Linked DNA regions of Homo sapiens. The protein of the gene in region 3 purifies or fractionates together with the protein of the main gene of each other region. This does not show direct contact. Each region holds a gene or a part of one and is shown on either strand. Other genes may lie near its edges.

Region 1 (3,500 bases), on a different chromosome or scaffold from region 3:
ACTCCTTCACCATGATGTGGGCCGCGCGGAAGCCCAGGGTGCCGTCCTCGTCCGGCTGCTCATAGAAGCAGTCGGACCGCAGGCGGTGCCGGCGCAGCAGCCGAGAGAAGTAGCACGCGGCCACGACGCAGGCGTCCACGGAGTCCAGGCGGGCCGGCAGCTCACGGCCGGCACCCGGGTGCTGCCTGATCACCTCCTCCGCCTCCTCGTAGGACAGCTGGCGGTCAGACTGGACCACGGAGGGTGCAAAGCGCAGGCTCTTCAGCTGGCCACTGGCCTTCTCCATGGTGAGGAACAGGGAGATGGCCAGGCGGTCCCGGCCAGGCAGGAGGCTGAGGACGTCCTGGCAGAGGCTGGCCGGCAGCATGGGCACTGGCTCCCTGCCGGGGGCATAGAACGCAGCGCCCTGCCTTCGCGCCTCCACGTCCAGCACCCCGTCCCTGGGCACGAAGCTGGCCACATCAGTGATGTGCACAGCCACCTCGCACCTGGGACCCAGGTCTCGGACACTGAGGGCATCATCGAGGTTGCAGGCGCCCTGGGGGTCCACAGTGAAGGTCAAGAAGGCGCGGCAGTCCTCTCGGCGGCCGGCAACCCGGCCAAGCTCCGTGTGGTATTTCTGCAGCACCTTGGTGATGGTGGCCTGGTCCGACGGGGGCACCCTCAAGCTGTACTCCAGGCCGAGGATGCGGAGGCCCTGCTCCCAGGTGCTGGCCTCAGGCAGCACCTCCCGGACGATGCCCAGCGGGTAGTAGAAGCCTTGCCGCCACAGGACAATTTGGACCCAGAAGAGCCGGCTGTGCCGGGCCTCGGCGGTGAGCCTCTCAAGCCCCACACGCTGCAGCCGGCCCTTCCGGAGGCTGTAGATGGGGACCTGCGATGGGTCCTTCAGCTCGGCCACGAAGATCTTGGTCACGGAGCCATTGATGGGGACCATGATGCGCGGGTCCCACGTGTCCATGCGGCACACAAACGCCAGCTCGTGCCTCTTCCTCTTCAGCACGCCCAGCACGCGGCCCCGAAGCCGCCCCTCGGGCGCCTTGTCTCCCGAAAGGAGCTGCACCAGCACCTCATCCCCGGCGAAGGCCATCCCACAGTCCAGGCGGCCCCTGACCTGGATGGGGCCCGAGGAGGCATCGTCCAGCGGGATGGCTGACGCCCGCTCGAAGGTCTCTGGCACGAAAGAGCAGTGGCGGTACCGCTCGGGCTCCGCGTGCAGCAGCTTCCGTAGCGCAGCCGGGGGCAGGTTCTCGTACAGCCGGGCCTGCTGCAGGGACTCGGGCCTGGCGACAGTGTCCAGCAGCCCGTCCTCCCCGACGGTCACCATCACCTTCTGGCTCTCGTCCAGAAGCTCCCGTAGGATGGCGTCGTCAGCGTTGAGCTCCCCGTCCCACGGCCAGAAGTCAGCCTCTGCATCCTCAGCCTCCGTGGACTCCACGCCCGCTGCAGCAGCCGCTCCTGCCGCACAGGCCCCGGGCACCACGTCTTCCTTCACTGCGTCTCCTGCTGGTGCTGCCGCAGCCTCCGTCTGCGCTGTGGTTGCCGTGATGTCACGGGATGCTGGGCTCAGAGCCTCATCTCCCGGCTCTGCCTTCACCATGGCCGTCACCACAGCCGCCTGCTCCTCGGCCAGGTCCCCTACTGGCTCTGGGGCAGCCTCCCAGTTCCCCGCTGCCCCAGCCTGTGTGCCTCGGGGAGGCCAGCGCCGTCTCTGCGCCACACCCTGCTCGACCTGCTCCATGGACAGGCCCTCGGGGCAGACACTGTGCCGCTCCACGCACTCACGGATGAAGCTCTCCCAGAGCTTGCCGCAGGCCCCGAAGGAGCAGAGGGCCACGGCGTCCCCCACTACCACCAGCTGGGACTGGGCGCGGGTCAGGACGGTGTTGAGCACGCGGGCGTCGGTGAAGAACTCAGGGGCCAGTGCCCCAGGGCTGAGCAGGCTCTGGCAGGTGTGCACAGTGCTGAGCACCACGACCCGGAACTGCCGCCCTGCAGGGGGCACGCAGTCAGGTCAGGCTGGGTGCGCAAGACGGTGGGACCAGCCCCACCCCTGCCGATGCCAGGCTGAGGAGTGGGCCGAGCCACCCGGGGTATCCTGGGGCAGCTGGCAGCACCTGGCCCCGCTGGTCACCCACCTGGCAGGATCTCAAAACTGCCGACAGACACCTGGCCTAGGTCCCGCCTCCTCAGCTCCTGCCTCAGTGCACTGACCTGAAGACGCAGCAGGGCCGGGGATGAGTGCTGGACGCAGTGAGGACTCGGCCACCCCCGACAAGGAGAGGGCACCCCCACCAAGCTCGGGGATGAGCGCAGGACGCAGTGAGGACTGGGCCACCCCCGACAAGGAGAGGGCACCCCCACCAAGCTCGGGGATGAGCGCAGGACGCAGTGAGGACTGGGCCACCCCCGACAAGGAGACGGCACCCCCACCAAGCTCCAGACACCTCAGGGGCCGAGCCCCACCTCAGCCCTGGGAGGCAAATACTGCAGCCCCCTCTTACAGATGGGGAAACTGAGGCGGGGGCTCGTCCATCAGCCGGAGAGCTCCCCCTCCCCCAGCAGGGGTGCGGTCGGGGGCTGTCCCGGGCTGGCCGGGCTCACCTGGGCACCGTGGGAAACGACACAGATGCACCTCTGCTCGCGGCCGCCCCAGCAGCTGGGCCAGGTGTTGTAGGCCTCCTGCACCTTCTCGACGACCTGCGCAATCTCAGCCAGATTCAGCCAGGACGCCATGGACATGTCCCGGTCTGGGCTGCCCGCCACGTGGCAGAACATGAGCGGGTAGTGCCGGGGGTGGGGCGGAACCTTGCCCCTGGCGTGGATGGGGTTGCCCTTGGCCACGTAGAAGTGCCGCGAGATGAAGCTGACAATGGCGTCCGTGCAGCGGTAGTTCTCGTGGAAGACCAGGCGGCTCTGCCGCGCCACCTCGTGAGTCTCCTGCTGGTAGCACAGGAAGAGGCGGTGCAGCAGCGTGTGCTCGGCCGCCCGGGCCCTGGCCACACTGAACAGCCGGGGTGTGACCTGCATGTGGTCGCCCGCCAGCACGAGGCGGGTGCCGTGCGAGGCATAGGCCAGCGGGGTGAGGGCCTCGCACTCCAGCATCTGGGCCGCCTCATCGATGAGAATGTGGGAGAAGAAGCCGACCGGCACCCTGAGCTCACGGGCCTGGGAGGTGGTGGTGACCACCACGCGGTGCCGCGCCAGCTCTGCCCGTGTGGGCGGGCGGAAAGCCTGGCGGTCGTCGGTCAGGCAACAGTACTGCAGCGTGACTGGGTCCGTCTGGCTCAGCGGCCGGTCCGTGTACATCACACGGAGAGGAGTGGCCTCGGGGTGGCCGCCGCTGACGTGGCTGTGGAAATACTCCCGGATGTAGATGTCGGCGGCACTGCGGGAGGGGGAGGAGCTCATGGGCTTCTTGCTGGGGGCCTCAGTGCTGTCCGCTAAAGCACCTACTGTGTGCCCAGCCGAGCTGCCCCTGAGCACAGCCCTTGTCTGGC
Region 2 (4,038 bases), on a different chromosome or scaffold from region 3:
GTCCATAATTGCTCAACAGCCCTGCGCCGTACCTCCTGCCCATGAGTCCCTTCACTCCTCTATCCGGCAGGGAGCCTCTCCCCACCTGCTCTCCAGGCTCCTGCCTGGAAGGGGCTAACTGGGTTCTAGCTGCTCCCTGGGCCAGGCCCATTTATTTCATTTTTTATTTAACAGTTATAATATACTTAATATATACCAGATATGTTCTAAATTCTTTTCAAAAATTCTCCCATTTGATTCTAATGAGCCTGCTAACCTAATGTGTGCTGAGGCACAGAGAGGTTAAATAACCTGCCTGAGACAACACAGCTGGTCAGTAGTGGACCGGGATTTAAACCCCACAATGCTGCTCCAGATTTCACATCTTAACCACTTCCTGCTTCCATGTGGGCCCTCACAGCCTCCACAAGGAGGCAAGGAGGGTGGGGCTAACAGATCTTTGCAGAGTTGAAGGGTCAGCTGGGGCCCCTTGGGGCCCTGCAACCAGGGCCCCCAAACGGCCAGTACCCACAGCTCCCTGTGTCCCACCCTGAAGGGCACCCCATCTCAAGGTCAAGGCTAAGGGTTGGGAGGCTCCAATTCTGCTAAAGAACTTCAAGGGCATTGCCCTGGTCTCTGGGCACAGGACCCCAACCCTGAGGGCCTCTTCCCTGTGCTTATATCCTCCCATCCCCATGGCAGGGGCACAGGGTGATATCAGTGCTGGCGTTTGAGGGAGAAAACCACCCATCTGAGCCAAATTCCATAGCTCAGTGAAGCATTCCTTCTAAGGGATTAAACTGGGTTTGGTCAGGAGGTGGCTCTTTAGGGACCTGCCTCCCCAGGGCAGCTGGGCTGCTCTTAGAGGGAGAACCAGCTCAGCAATGCAAGGCTCTGTGCAGTTAGGGCTGGGGGAAGGGATGCTCTGCCTCAGTGGACTGTGGTCCTTCCCCTCTGGGTACCCAGGGGTACCCCAGGTGTGGATGATGAAACTCTGGTCTAGGCACATGAATGGAAGAAGGAAAGAAAAGATTCCCACCACAGAGACCACTGACTTCGTGTCTCAACAGACCTGAGTTCAAATCCAGACTACCATTTGCTGGTTGTGTGATCTTGGGCAAGGCACTTAGCCTTGCTGGTCCTCAGTTTCCTCATCTGCACAGTTGGGAAAATAACAGCCACTGCAGGGTGGCAGTGTGGCTTGAATTTCATTGCATTTGCAATGTTCCTCCAGAGGGCAAGGCATAAGTAGATGCTCAATGCATGTTACTTTCTTCCCTCTGCCCCTCTCTGTGAGCTCCCACCTCATGGGGGAGACCAGCAACATGCAGAGGAACACAGAATCAGAGGCCAAGAGCAGACAAGGACTGAGCCAGGGGCTGAAGGCTGGACCTCTGGTTTACTGGCAGGTTCAGAAATGTACAGTTTTCCTTATCTGTGAAATGGACATAAAATTGTCTTCTCCCATAAGGTTGTTGAGAGAAATACAGATAAACCTGAAAAGCATCAGCACAGTGCCTGGCACATAGTAAGCAATTAACCAATGGCAGCTGGCACTATCATGATTATTCTTGAGGGTGCAGGAGGGTGCAGAGTCAGGAGGAGTTTCTTGGAGAAGATGAGTAAAGAACAGATTTGGGAAGTGGATAACTTCCTTGGGAGCTCCCTTGCCCTGGGAGCAGAGGTGGACACGAGTGCCCCAGACCTGTTGCAGGCCATGGGTAGTGGAGTCTAGGAAGTGTGGTTGTGATGCTGAGGATGCACCTCCCGCAGTCAGGAGGGGCGCAGGGTGCAGGAAGGCCCAACTGGCTTCCCTGTTCTGACTCGAGGCATCGTCCCCTGCATTCCTATCTCCTGACACCTGAGCTGCACCCTCACTTGCAGCAGTCTGGGCAGCAACCTCCTTCCAGCAGCCCCGCACTCACCCTCCACCCTGCTGGCTTTTCTGACTGGGGCAGCTGAGAGAGATGCTGTGGGACCAGAGGCTTGAGGGATAAACAGGAGCGTGGTGCCTGGGAGGCCATCTCCCCTGTCCACTTGCCTCAGAGTAGGACCGCAGAGCATGCCTCCATCAGCCATTCCTGCGAGAGGGCACCCCTGGCCACACTAGGTGGTCCTCCCCAGTCCCTGCCTGGGTGGTGGGTGACCCCAGGTCATGCAGCATGTTATTATCAACACATCCCTCAAAGGCCATCCTGGGGTCCCTTTCTCCCCACATGCCAGGATGGATCAGGGACTTCCCTCCCCCAGCCTCTGCTCAGAGCTAGCCTGTCGGGTTAGCAGTGCCATCTCCCCATTGGCTGGGTGCAGGGGTGGGGCGCGGTGATCGATGCTCAGGGAAACACAGAGCTCAGCTACCGGCCCAGGCCTGGCAGCCCTTCATGTTTGGGACCCCCTACTTGTGCTCACCTTGCCAATTAGGGAGGCAAATTTATCATTGAGGGCCTTCATCTCCTCCTTCTCCTGGTTCTTCAGCTGCTGAACAGCGGGGTCCAACTTGACATCCAGGGGCACCAGCAGGCCGGGGTTCACAGTCACCTTGGAGATAGTGCCAGCCGACCAGCAGCCTGTGAGGCTGCGGGAGCTGAAGCCCGGCCCGGGGGCCCTGCAGCTGTCCCATCCTGAGGTTCCAGGCCGGGGGCTGCCCACCGGGGTCACCTCACAGCTGCTGAGGCTGCTGAAGCCAACCACGCAGGAGCGGCAGGCCATGGTGCCCCCGGCCGGAAGCAGGAGGGCCCAGGGGGGTGAGCGAGTGAGCCTGGGGTTGCGTCGGGTGGCAGGCTCTGGTTGCTCTGGTCACAGCTGGGGCGGGCTGGGGACTGAGGAGCAGACACCTGTTGCACAGTGCTCATTAGCTGCAGGAGGGCGGGACGCCTCCCAGCCTGACCAACCTGTTGGATGATGTGGGTGCTCCCGCCCCTCCCCCAGCAGCATGTAGGTCTCCCTCCCAACAGGTATCTGCATTGCTTAGGGGGCTGGTCCACAGCCCCCTGCCCCAAAGAAAGCAGGCCTAGCTCTGGGGAGGGGGCCAAGGCTGGACTGGCCGGGTGGGTTGGGGGTGGGGAGTTGGCAAAAGGAAGGCCATTCAAGGGGGCAGGAGAGAAGAGAGAGCGCCTCACCGCAGACCTCACTGCATACTTGAAGGCTGACGTATCTGGGCTCACATACTTCTGGAAAAGATGAGTCAAGCATAGGCCTTGAGCTCCCGAGTGTAGGGCAGCTATCCTGGGCACCGTGCCAGCCTGGCACTGGAAAACAGCACTTATTATTTATTTTCTGGCTGCCAAAGAGTCTCCCTGGCTTATCTTCCCCCTTCCTTCTACCCCCTCTCCCTTCCTTCCTTCCTTCACTTTAACTAGCATTGATTGAGGACCTACTATGTACACCCTACTGTCTCAGAGGCTGGGAGGACATAGACGGTCAAGGCCAAGGAGCTCTCAGCATTGGAAATGTGAGACCTGGTTCAAGACTCAGCTGGACTGCTCACCACTCATGTGACCTCAGGCACGTTACTTGACTTTTGTCTTCATTTGTAAAGTGGGGATGAAAACACCCACCTCACAGGAGGTAGCATGTACAAAGCACTTGGTAGAGGACAGGGGACAAAGTTGGCCTCAATCAGTGGTACTGCCTTCCGGGTGCTGAGTCTAGCAGGGGCGATGGGTATGGCTGAATGCAGCTCTGCTCTGGGGCAATGAGAATCCCTGCCTTCCTCACACTCTTTCCTCCCCACTCTTCTTTCTCTTCTCTGCCTCCTTTGACCTCTTTTACACCATCTGTGAAGTAGAAATAGAAAAGACCCCATTTTGCCCCCACAGAGCCTCTGACAGGGCGGCAGAGGCCCACCTGGCCCAGGGCAATGCCTACCTTTCCACAGTTCCTGAGACCCCACTCTCCCACCCCAGGGGGTTACCAGCTCTCCCAGCCCTGCGTCTCCTTTCCTGGCCTGGTGGTCCTGATGTTCTGGCCCTGGTGGCTGGATCTGCATGTCTTTCCTGGACCTGGCTCAATCCTGCTCTGGGTGGCAGGGGCCAGAGCAGAGAGAGGAGTGTGTCTGGG
Region 3 (3,500 bases):
GCCTCCTTGGCATTGGCTCTGGCTCTAAGGCATTTTATGGTAGAGAACTGGCTGAAAGACTTCTCTTACATCCGCCAGCATTACTTATGGAAGCTGTATACCATTATTTCTTACTGCTGCTTTTGGAAATATTTTCTGAGTACTTAATACTTCATTTTCTCTTGAGCTTTGCCATTGAATTTTTTATTCCAATGATTACATCTTAATATTTTCATTTTCTTCATCTTTCTATTTTTTCTTAGTAACTTTCTGTCCTGGTTTCAAAGATTCAGTTCCCTCCTTTATTTCAGTGAGCATTTTGAACATACTTATTTTACAGTTTATTATGGATTACTGTAGCTCCATTTCTTCACAGGTAACTTTTTCAGTTTGTAGATTTCTTAGCTGTTTTTCTTGGCATTGCAGCCCCCAGTGAGTTTAGCAATTCAAATTTTAGTGTTCATCTGTTATGGGAGTTTTATATGATCCCTTCCCTGTGAAGCAGTTTCATGGTTCCTTCACACTGGCTGTTCACAGTCTCTGCTTTCAGACCAGGCCTTACATATACAGATTGCTCTATGCTTTCACTCTGTGTATATGCACAATTCTGGGTCCCTCTTCTATGTCCCTTATCTGCTAGGTCTTGGTCTTATAGAGGAACAATTTCTGTTTTTGGCAAGCTAGACCTGTCTGCCTGCAGTGCTATGTGATGGATGCAGCTCTTTAATCTCCTGCTCCTGTGTAGACAGTATTACCCCAATTCCCAGCTTTATGCTGGATGTTTAAGTTCAGCACCTTACCACTCTGTTGGGTGCTGAGAATTTAGTCCTAAAAACCCATATCCAGACTGGGCCCTACTTACCACTTTGGTTTTCCTTTCTGCTTCTCTTGTTTTGACTACAGATCTGAATATTTATTATTAATATTTCCTTTTTTTTTGGAGTGGTATGAGAGGTTTGTGCTATGCTCAGCCTTCTATCTCGACCCTAGAAGTAGAAAAATAGCTTTTAAATCCACTACAAAGAGCTTTTACTTATATAAGGTTAATAGGTGGTAGACAGTCTTTGACATGGGGTGAAAAAATCTAAAAGTTATAAAAATAAAACCAACTTGGCTGGGCATGGTGGCTCATGCCTGTAATCCCAGCACTTTGGGATGCTGAGGCAGAAGGATCACTTGAGTCCAGGAGTTTGAGACCAGCCTGGACGACATAGTGAGATCTCATCTCTAAAAAAAAAAAAATTAGCTGGGCGTGGTGGCGCATGCCTTTAGCCCCATCTACTTGGGAGGCTGAGATGGGAGGATTGCTGCAGTGAGCCGTGATGGTGCCACTGCACGCCAGCCTGGGCAACAGAGTGAGACCCTGTCTCAAAAAAAAAAAAAGCAAAGAAAAAAATTAAAATAAAAAAATAAAAACAACTTAATTATATCTCTGATACAGACTGTGATCAACCACTCTATGATTGTCCTATGTGTGGGCTCATATGTACAAATTACCATATTCTTCAGGAACATGTTGACTTGCATTTGGAAGAAAACAGCTTTCAGCAAGGTATGTTTATATGTTTGAAGATAAAAATATCATTTAATTTCTACTTTCTAGGACACATATCTAATTTTTAGATTTGTGATATGGAAAAAATATTTTAAAATACATCTTTTCCTTTAAAAGTGTTTTATTTACAAGTTGAGGCCATTTCTTTAGCAGCTAGAAGTATCTGAATATTGTATTTGGTCAGCGAAAATTGTTGAACTAGAAAACTGCCATATGGCACATAAAATTTTACAAATGAATGTGAACTATATAACCAAAACATCTTTCAGTGCATCTTGAGCTGCTTGAATAGCTTCTAAATGACTTACTGGTTTTATTGTGATTCTATAAAAGTTTTCCTTTCTCCCCTATGTTTTTTAATAGTGGCATTGTTTAAATAATCATTATGGTGGCTTAGAAGTGGAAAAATCCTATATGAATGTTAGAAGCCCACTGAACGAAAATAAAAAGTAGATCCCAAGAGAAACCAATTGTGTTTTACCCTATTTCAGTTTTTTAAGGTACGTAGATAGCTTCTGTTAAGGCAGAGGTCTTTAGTGTCCAGTATCAATGATCCTAGTACCAGTATCGGTGTTCATGGACAATGTTACTGCTCACTCACCCTAAGCCAAATATGAGATTATTGGGGCAAAGATGGAAAAGTTCCCTGCTCTGGTGGTTTCTGAATGTCTGCTAATTCTTACTCTTATTTATGATAGGCTTTGTATGAGCACGTATATTACAGTGTAAACCTATAGTGGGTAATAAGAAAAAGATATGGTCTAAGTAAATCACTGTAGATAACCTCAGGGGACACTAAACATTGAGTGTGACTTGTATATCCCCAAGAATGGAAGGGTGACCAAATAGGAAGATGTAGCAGCAGCTGAGAACTTTGAAAGGAAAGGAAGAATAGTCAGTGATATAATTAAACCATCAGGTCATGGGGTTAAGGAGACAAGATAGTGGCCAGAAGCCACTGACAAATGGATCTGGGGGACACCGAGTAGAGAAGATGCAGGATGAGATGTTGCAAAGTTTTACCATTTTTGGGGGCCAAACTGTAATTAAATTATTATCTAACACCTGCACTTTGTAAATGTGTATTTTTATGCTCTTTATTTTTTTTTTTTTCTCCCCTAGTATTTCTTTGAAAAATCAATCTGCCTTAGTTATGTTAAGGAGTATCAATGCAGGATGTTACTTAACGTTTTAAAATTCTGGTTTCCTCAGTAAATAATAATAACTACTTCATAAGATTGTTACAAAGATCAAATGATATAATTAATGAAAAGTGCTTGTCACAGCTTTAAACACTTAGTGAGGCTGGGCATGGTAGCTCACGCCTGTAATCTCAGCACTTTGGGAGGCCGAGGCTGGTGGATCACCTGAGGTTAGGAGTTTGAGACCAGCCTGACCAACATGGCGAAACTCCATCTCTACTAAAAATACAAAAATTAGCTGGGCATGGTGGCAGGCACCTGTAATCCCAGCTACTCAGGAGGCTGCAGCAGGAGAATCACTTGAACCTGGCAGGCAGAGGTTGCAGTGAGCTGAGATCGCACCATTGTACTCCAGCCTGGGCAATAAGAGCGAAACTCCGTCTCAAAAAACAAAAAACAGTGACTGTTAGTTGTCATTTAGATGGAGGTTATTCCTTACCAAAGCAGTTCTAAGTTTTGCTAAATTTGTACTCAGTTCCATATCATCACAGTCATGAATAAATGGCAAATAACAGCATTTACTCTATTTTAAAAACATATATTAAATAATAAATAATCTTTGATTGCAACAGTTATTTTATTCTGAACATTAACAATACCTAACAGGCATGGATAGAGTCCAGTGTTCTGGTGATCTACAATTGGCTCACCAGCTTCAGCAAGAAGAAGACAGAAAGAGGAGATCTGAAGAATCAAGACAAGAAATAGAAGAATTTCAGAAGCTGCAGGTACAAAGATTAATAACAATTATAATATTTTGATTT
Region 4 (2,376 bases), on a different chromosome or scaffold from region 3:
CCCAAAGAGCTAGGATTACAGGCATGAGCCACCGTGCCTGGCCAGAAGTGTAAATATTTTAGATGCAAACATAATCTACAAATTCAGAATGCCTAACTAGTTTATGTAATATAAACTTATTTATAGTTTATGAACTGAGAATTATTAAAGAAATGCAGGAGTAATTATTATTTTGTTTGAGATGGAGTCTCGTTCTGTCACCCAGGCTAGAGTGCAGTGGCGCAATCAGCTCACTGCAACATCCACCTCCCAGATTCAAGCAATCCTTCTGCCTCAGCTTCCTGAGTAGCTGGGATTACAGGTACCTGCCACCACACCCAGCTAATTTTTGTATGTTTAGTAGAGACAGGGTTTCACCATGTTGGCCAGGCTGGTCTTGAGCTCCTGACCTCAAGTGATCCACCTGCCTCTGCCTCCCAAAGTGCTGGGATTACAGGTGTGAGCCACCAAGGAGTAATTATTATTAAAAGGTAACCAGCAGCAGTCAGTTTATAGATAAAGGACCTATACTCATTCTCAGCACCTTGCCCAAAGTAGGCATTCAAACTCAAGTGTAGCCAAGGTCTGCACTAGATACTAGGAAACAACAAACGTAACTGTACATTATAAGAAATGCCACCATAAAACTATTGTAGAGAGAAGTGGTCAGGGAAGGTTTACTGGAGGACTAGGAGAATGAGACAGTAAATGGGAAGTTATTTCACCCAGATGTCTGGAAAGATAGGCTGTTTGACATCTCACACTCTGGCAGTAGAATAAAGACTGAATAGGAAAAGGGCAGAGGACAAGGCAGATGTCTATAAAGGTAAGTAACTTGCTTTATCCTGAGTGCTACAGGGGCCACTAAAAAAACAGAATTTTAAGGAATAACATAAGATTTACATTTCAGAAAAATCACTGATGGTGTAAAAGATGGGCTGGAGGGAACTAAAGGTAGGGATCTGTGTTAGGTACCTGTTACAACATGAGAAAGTGTTAAGAATTGAAGACAATGACAGAAGGAAAAGAAACAGATAGTGGGAGCAGAATTAATACATAGGTTTAACGAGGAGTCTAGAATAATTCCAGTTTTATATCAGTGACTGAATGGCATCATTAATGATGACGAAGATAGGAGTCACATGACCTAGGGAAGGTGGGAAGAAATTTTTTTGTTTTGTTTTGGTTTGTTTTTAATGCATTAAGTTTGGGTTGCCTATAGGGCTTCTAAGAGGAGATATATAATAAGTAATTGAATATTTAGATTTTGCTTCCTATCAAGTCTGGGCTGACGATGAAGTACAATGCTATCACCTTTCCCCAACATGGCTCACTTAGTTATATTAACAAACTAATATGTTCTATAGATACAGAGGCAAATAAACAGGAACAATTAGTTGTATACCCATCTCCCTTTCATTGCTAAGGACTGGATAAATATCTTAAAGACAAAATAGTATAGATGCCCAAAATACAGACTTCCTTTTGGTTTTCTTTAGCTAAGTGACTCTCAAGCTTTACTGTGCACAAGCATTACTGAACCAGACTACACACAATACTTCGTCGGCAATCGATTTTTTCTTAAAGGATTTTACTGCATGACTTATATCTCCATAAAAACTGACTTAAAATCCAGCCCCCTAAATAAGATGCAACTCCACTCTAATCTGGGTATAAATAGTTTTGGCCATGAATCTGGATGAGAATCCTCCCTGAAGAATTTGGTTAAAATATGTTCCAGATCAATTGCAGCAGTTCTACTTGGAGTCCATGAGTGGACTTAACAGAATCTGCCAGTCCTCTGAAACTGTGTAGTATTCTGTGTATATGTGCTATATCTTTTTCTATGGGAAGAGGGTCCACAGCTTTCATCAGGTTTTCAAAAGTACCCATATTCCTCAAAAAACGGACCCACTGGTCCAGAAAAAAAATGGTGCTTATGATTTTTATGAGATAATGATTATCAAGCAATGTTACACAGGACATGAGTTCCTCTAAAGTTTAATACTTGAGTGCTGTGGCCGGGCGCAGTGTCTCACACCTGTAATCTCAGCACTTCGGGAGCCCGAGGCAGGTGGATCACGAGGTCAACAGATCAAGACCATCCTGGCGCCAACATGGTAAAACCTCATCTCTACTAAAAATACAAAAATTAGCTGGGCGTGGTGGCATGTGCCTGTAGTTTCAGCTACTCAGGAGGCTGAGGCAGGAGAATCGCTTGAACCTGGGAGGTGGAGGTTGTTGTGAGATCATGCCACTGTACTCCAGCCTGGCGACAGCACAAGACTCTGTCTCAAAAAAAAAAAAAAAAAAAAAATTGGCTGTGTCAAATATTTCTAGTATTTATTTTTTTAAGACAATAGAAAAAGAATTGCTTTTAGAATGGTGTTTTTTTTT

The links. Proteins that work in one complex are often made in the same cells at the same time.
Region 1: the proteins of ZUP1 (region 3) and HELZ2 purify together in Homo sapiens (affinity purification with mass spectrometry, with the first as the bait; one large-scale study listed by BioGRID). This does not show direct contact.
Region 2: the proteins of ZUP1 (region 3) and KRT80 purify together in Homo sapiens (affinity purification with mass spectrometry, with the first as the bait; one large-scale study listed by BioGRID). This does not show direct contact.
Region 4: the proteins of ZUP1 (region 3) and TEFM purify together in Homo sapiens (affinity purification with mass spectrometry, with the first as the bait; one large-scale study listed by BioGRID). This does not show direct contact.

Annotation. Positions count from the first base shown.
Region 1 is NC_000020.11:63,564,240-63,567,739, forward strand, and holds part of HELZ2 (3'-5' exoribonuclease HELZ2), read right to left. Parts: exon of another isoform or gene 3,412-3,500; coding exon of another isoform or gene 3,389-3,411; coding exon 2,605-3,388; intron 2,215-2,604; coding exon 2,139-2,214; intron 1,993-2,138; coding exon 1-1,992. UniProt on the Homo sapiens protein: Can degrade highly structured RNAs through its concerted ATP-dependent RNA helicase and 3' to 5' exoribonuclease activities. Shows a strong preference for pyrimidine over purine residues for its nuclease activity.
Region 2 is NC_000012.12:52,189,215-52,193,252, forward strand, and holds the start of KRT80 (keratin, type II cytoskeletal 80), read right to left. Parts: upstream 2,801-4,038; 5' UTR 2,689-2,800; coding exon 2,389-2,688; intron 1-2,388.
Region 3 is NC_000006.12:116,658,767-116,662,266, reverse strand, and holds part of ZUP1 (zinc finger-containing ubiquitin peptidase 1), read left to right. Parts: intron 1-1,420; coding exon 1,421-1,531; intron 1,532-1,897; exon of another isoform or gene 1,898-2,034; intron 2,035-3,342; coding exon 3,343-3,464; intron 3,465-3,500. UniProt on the Homo sapiens protein: Deubiquitinase with endodeubiquitinase activity that specifically interacts with and cleaves 'Lys-63'-linked long polyubiquitin chains. Shows only weak activity against 'Lys-11' and 'Lys-48'-linked chains.
Region 4 is NC_000017.11:30,900,863-30,903,238, forward strand, and holds part of TEFM (transcription elongation factor, mitochondrial), read right to left. Parts: intron 1-2,376. UniProt on the Homo sapiens protein: Transcription elongation factor which increases mitochondrial RNA polymerase processivity. Regulates transcription of the mitochondrial genome, including genes important for the oxidative phosphorylation machinery.